2 separate regions of the Homo sapiens genome follow, and region 1 is linked to region 2. Evidence: fine-mapped expression QTL. Tissue or cell type: hippocampus. Region 2 holds a variant in brackets; the other region holds the start of a gene. All regions are shown on one strand. Distances are from middle to middle.

The links. PIP is the estimated chance that this variant, and not a neighbour inherited with it, causes the effect. A credible set is the group of variants that fine-mapping cannot tell apart.
Region 1: BAAT starts here. The variant in region 2 is the best candidate, but not a certain one, in a credible set for the expression of BAAT in hippocampus (GTEx, PIP 0.52).

The regions. Positions count from the first base shown.
Region 1 is chr9:101,383,617-101,386,538 of GRCh38, forward strand. It overlaps BAAT (bile acid-CoA:amino acid N-acyltransferase), which reads right to left and starts at 1,390. Exons shown (of 4, transcript NM_001701.4): 1 at 1,239-1,390.
Region 2 is chr9:101,355,182-101,358,103 of GRCh38, forward strand. It overlaps the pseudogene TRMT112P4. Among named protein-coding and RNA genes, the nearest start is that of BAAT, 28 kb to the right of the region's middle. The variant C/T (reference allele first, on the strand shown) is at 1,511.

The DNA of each region.
Region 1 (2,922 bases), 28 kb after region 2:
TTGCTCTAGTTTCCTATTAATTTTTAACAGTTATTGAACCCAATAAATGTATCACTATTTTCCCTCTTCATTTTCTGTTCTCTCTAAATCCGTCCCTCTTAGGGATTGCCACTACATTTTACTCACATTATTTTAATAATTTTCTTTATAGAAGTTGTTTGACCCCTATTGGCACCATTAGGGCATATTTTTCTTCTGCAATAAAATACTCAAGGTAACTTCTGGAGGGCTCTGCATTTGCAAATGGTTTCTTTCCTGAGACAACAAAAGATGAAAACTACAAATGTGATCACAGTAATGAGTAATAAAATACTCAAGCCCCACTTTCAGAATTTGGGGAGGACCAAATCTCCTACTAATCCTCCTCAACTAATTCACATGGTTTCTTGAAATAGCTACAGAACGGAGTGTTAGTAGGATTTTACATGACAATAAAAGGACTATCTCCATAAAAGTACTGGATCTTTTTTGAGGTGATAGAGCATTTAAAAAGTGCAAACTTAAAGGAAACTTAAATTCAACTTAATTTTAAGGAAGTCTGATCAGCCAAATACTCCATAAAAAACTTGAAAACTATTAAGCTACTACCTTGCAAGACTTATGCTACAGATACAACTGATTAAGAATTATTAACTGGGATACATAAAATATTCCTAAAAAAGTAATGTCTAAAAATCTCAGGTGAATATGAGAAAAAGTCTTAAACAGGTACTTAACAGACAATAGGACACAATCATAAGCTTATGGGAAAAGGCTTAATCTCATTATCAAAGAAATGCAAATTAAAATCATGGTGTGTATTTCATACCTAAAAGGTTGGCAACAATTAAAAATTCCAAAAATAAGAGTTGGTTAGGAAGTGAATCACTCAGACTCAAGCCCTACTAAGGGAATATAAATTGGTACCACCACTTTGGAAAGCAATTGGACATTGTCTAATAAATGTGACAATATGAATAACTTTTGACCCAGCAATTCTTCTTCTAGAGAATAAAAATAAATGAATTACAACTACATGCAATAACCTGGATGAATCTTATAAACATAATGTCGTTAGAAACTAGTCATAAATACACATAAATAAATCTTTCAAATTTGTATTTGCTGAACTAAAACTATAGGCCACATTTTTGGAGTAAATCTTTAAACAAAAGCAAGGAAAGGATTACTGAGAGTCTGGATTGTGGTGAAAAATTACATTAAAAGAATGGAAGTAAGTAAATGAAAAAAATACATACCTAGCAAGAGAACCTGCCCCCAAAATTTCAGCGTAGGTTCTATTTTCCCTAAGTGTCGGCTGGTCTGAGAAATAAAGAGAAAGAGTACAAAGAGAGGAATTTACAGCTGGGCCTCCGGGGGTGATGTCACATATCAGCAGGACCGTGAGGCCCCGAGCCACAAAACCAGCAAGTTTTTATTAAGGATTTCAAAAGGGGAGGGGGTGTATGAACAGGGAGTAGGTCACAAAGATCACATGCTTCAAAGGGCAAAAGGGAGAACAAGATCACATGCTTCTGAGGCCAATAAAGATCACAAGGCAAAGGGCAATGCAAAGATCACAAGGCAAAGGGCAAACTTAGAATTACTGATGAGGGTCTATGTTCCACTGTGCATGTATTGTCTTGATAAACATCTTAAACAACAGAAAACAGGGTTCAAGAGCAGAAAACCGGTCTGACCTCAGATTTACCACAGCAGGATTTTTTCCCCATCCTAATAAGCCTGAGGGTACCGCAGGAGACCAGGGTGTATTTCAGTCCTTATCTCAACTGCGTAAGACAGACACTCCCAGAGTGGCCGTTTATAGACCTCCCCCTGGGAATGCAATTCTTTTCCTAGGGTCTTAATATTTAATATTCCTTGCTACAAGAAGAATTTAGCGATATCTCTCCTACTTACACGTCTGTTTATAAGCTCTCTGCAAGAAGAAAAATATGGCTCTATTCTGCCTGACCCCACAGGCAGTCAGACCTTGTGGTTGTCTTCCCTTGTTCCCTAAAATCACGGTTATTCTTTCTTTTTCAAAGTGCACTGATTTCATATTGTTCAAACACACGTTTTGCAATCAATTTGTACAGTCAGATACAATTACAGTGGTCCTGACGTGACGTACATCCTCAGCTTACCAAGATATGAGGATTAAGAGATTAAAATAAGACAGGCGTAAGAAATTATAAGAGTATTATTTGGGAAGTGATAAATGTCCATGAAATCTTCACAGTTTATGTTCAGAGACTGCAGTAAAGACAGGTGTAAGAAATTATAAAAGTATTAGTTTTGGGAACTGATACATGTCCATATTAAAATGAAATCTTCACAATTCATGTTCCTCTGCCGCGGCTCCAGCCAGTCCCTCCATTTGGGGTCCCTGACTTCCCGCAACACATACTATGCAACAATAAGCATAAGAAACCTAAAGTAGTAATGACTAAGATTATAAAATATATATATATCATATATCTATATGACAAGATCATAAAAACCATAAATCCGAATAATGGATTTCAAGATTTATGTGGCAAAAATTGACAGAATTAAAAGGAGAAATAGGAAAAATAACAATTCCATAACCATGAGTGAAGGTGTTTAAATCCCTTTTAACAATTGGTAGAAAACTTGAAAAAAATCAGTAAAGGCATAGATTTGAACACTATAATGACCTTACCCTAATCGCCTCAACAACTTCAAATGTACACGGCATGTTCAACAAGATAGGCCATAAGTTAGGCCATAAAATCTCGATACATGTAAAAATACTGAAATCATATATCTCAATGAAATTAGAAATTAATAACATTAAGCCATCTAGAAAACTCCCAAATATTTGAAAATCAAACATATTTATGTCATGAGTCAAAAAGAAATCACACTGGAAATTAGGAAATATTTCAAACTGAATGATAAAGGAAGAATAATATAATT
Region 2 (2,922 bases):
GTAGAGATAGCACTGCACAGACACCACCAAGATTTACTATATTGCCTTCCAGAGAGTGGCCCAAACTGCACATGGGCCTGCGTGAACCATACCTGGGGCAGGTGAGGAGCATTGCAGCAGAATGCAGGAAGTGGAGATTTGAGGCCACCTGGCGTCAAGGTCCTACCGGTTTCCAAGCTTCCTCTTTTGATACAGATATGTTGCCCCCAGCCTTGGCAGTCTGTGCCTATGATAGGAAGGACAGCACAAATAAACACTGAAAGGCCTTTGGTGTCATTCTTTCATTATCTTGATAAATAGCACCTGATTTCTGCCTCACCGTACTAATCTCCTTATCAAACGGTTACTTAGCCACACCCTTGGTGTTCTCTCTTGAACACAGCTTTCCACTCTATACAATATGACCAGGCTGAGAATTTTCCAAATCTTTAAGTTCTGCTTCCACATTTTATTATAAGTAGTCAAAATCCTCAACATTTTGCTTAGAGATTTCTTCTAGAACATGAACATGATTTGGCCAAGTTCTTTTGCCCCTTTGTAACAGAGATCATCTAGTCCTCAGTTGCCAATAACGTGTCCTTCATTTTTGTCTGAGACTTCATCAGAATGGCCTTTACCATCTGTATTTCTGTATTATCAACATTTTGATCACAACCACTTAGGTAATCTCTAAGAAGATGGAGGCTATTTCTACAGCTTCTTCAACCTCACCTTCTTCTGAACCCTCACCTGAGTTGCCCCTAAGGCTCCTTTCATGGCAGTGGACCTGTAAACTCTTTCCATCCTTTATTTATTATGCAGTTCCAAAGCTGCTTTCCCATTTTTAGGTTTTGTTATTAACACACCCTATCTCTCTGTGCCTATTTCTGTCTTTGTTGGTCTCTGCTGCTATAATGAAATGCCTTAGACGGGGTAATTTACGATAGAAATGTATTTCTCACAGTTCTGGAGCCTGGGAGGTCTAAGATCAAGGAACTAGCAGATATGGTCTCTGGTAAGGGCTACTCTCGGCTCCATAGATAGCATCTTGTTTCTGCATCCTCACATGGTGAAGGCGGCAAGGCACCTCCCTTCAACCTCTTTTTTATTTTTATTTTTTTATTTACTTTTTTTTTGTTTGAAACTTTAATGAGAAAAAACATATACTATCGAGCTCAAGAATATGGTGTGTTTGGTGTGCCATTGGGCCAAGGGTTGGGGATACATGTAGCAGAATTAGGAAACAGGATATACATCAACAAAAATTCACACGATCATGAGAAGGAAAACTGGCACTTGGCACAATCAACTCTCAGTTTCCTCATCATTCAGCAGCATATTGGGAACCCTGCGACTGAGGCAGAACACACGTCTAGACTCTGGGCACTGCAGGGTGCCCTCCAACACATCCACCTCCAGCAGCACATGGTACATCTTCCTCAGAAACTGTTCATCCTCCTCATATCCCTCAACTGGCCCTTTAGGCACCCCAGTCAGGTGCAAGGTATGTATCAGCTGCCTCCAGGAGCAC[C/T]GGTCACTCCTAGGGTATCATACTGTGCCACTAAGTGAGGGTTGAACTCCAGAGGGCAGATGCAGACCTCAGTGGCCTGGAGGTGCAGGGGGAAGCCACAGGGCCCCACCCCCACACATGCAAGCTCAGCAGATTGTCTTCAACCTCTTTCATAAGGGCACTGATCCCAATGAGGGCTTTGCCCATATGGCTTAATCACTTCCAAAAAGGCCCCACCTCTTAATGTCATCACCTTGGGGATTAGGTTTTTAAACATATAAATTTTGGGGGCATTAATATTAAGATCATAGTAATGGGCATATGTGATGTACAAGCCTATCCCTCACATTTGTGGGACCTACAGCAAGAGCAAAAAATGAAAACCTACATACAATATTATAAATATTTAAAATGAAAATCCAGGCACAGTGACTTATGTCTCTAATCCCAGTTACTTGGGAGGCTGAGGCAGAAGGATTGCTTGAAGCCAGGAGTTTGAGACCAGACTGGGCAACATAGTAAGACCCTATCTCTAAAACTTTTTTTTCTTAACAAAAGAAAAAGGTTTAATTGGACTCACAATTCTACATGGCTGGGAGGCCTCACAATCATGATGGAAGGCAAGGGGAGCAAGTCACATCTTACATGGATGGCGGCAGGCTAAGAGAGCTTGTGCAGGGAAACTCCCCCTTATAATACGGTCAGACCTCGTGAGACTTATTTACTATCATGAGAACAGCATGGGAAAGACCTGCCTCCATAATTCAATCATCTCCCATCAGGTCCCTCCCACACACATGGGAATTATGGGAGCTACAAGATGATATTTGGTTGAGTACACAGAGCCAAACTATATCATTCTGCCCCTGGTCCCTCCCAAATCTTTTATCTTCACATTTCAAAACCAATCATGCCTTCCCAACAATCCCCCAAAGGCTCAACTCATTTCAGCATTAACCCAAAAGTCCAAGTCCAAAGTCTCATCTGAGACAAGGCAAGTCCCTTCTGCCTACAAACCTGTAAAATCAAAAGCAAGCTAGTTATTTCCTAGATACAATGGGGGTACAGGCATTGGGTAAATATAGCTATTCCAAATGGGAGAAATTGGCCAAAACAAAGGTGCTACAGGCCCCATGAAAGTCCAAAATCCAGCAGGGTAGTCAAATCTTAAAGTTCCAAAATGATCTCCTTTGACTCCATGTCTTACGTCTGGGTCACACTGATGCAAGAGGTGGGTTCCCATGGTCTTGGGCAGCACTGCCGCTATAGCTTTGCAGGGTACAGCCTCCCTCATGGCTGCTTTCACAGGCAGTTGTGGAGTGTCCTGAGTCTTTTCCAGGCCTACAGTGCAGGCTGTCAGTGGATCTACCACTCTGGGATGTGGAGGACGGTGGCCCTCTTCTCACAGCTCCACTAGCCAGTGCCCCAGTAGG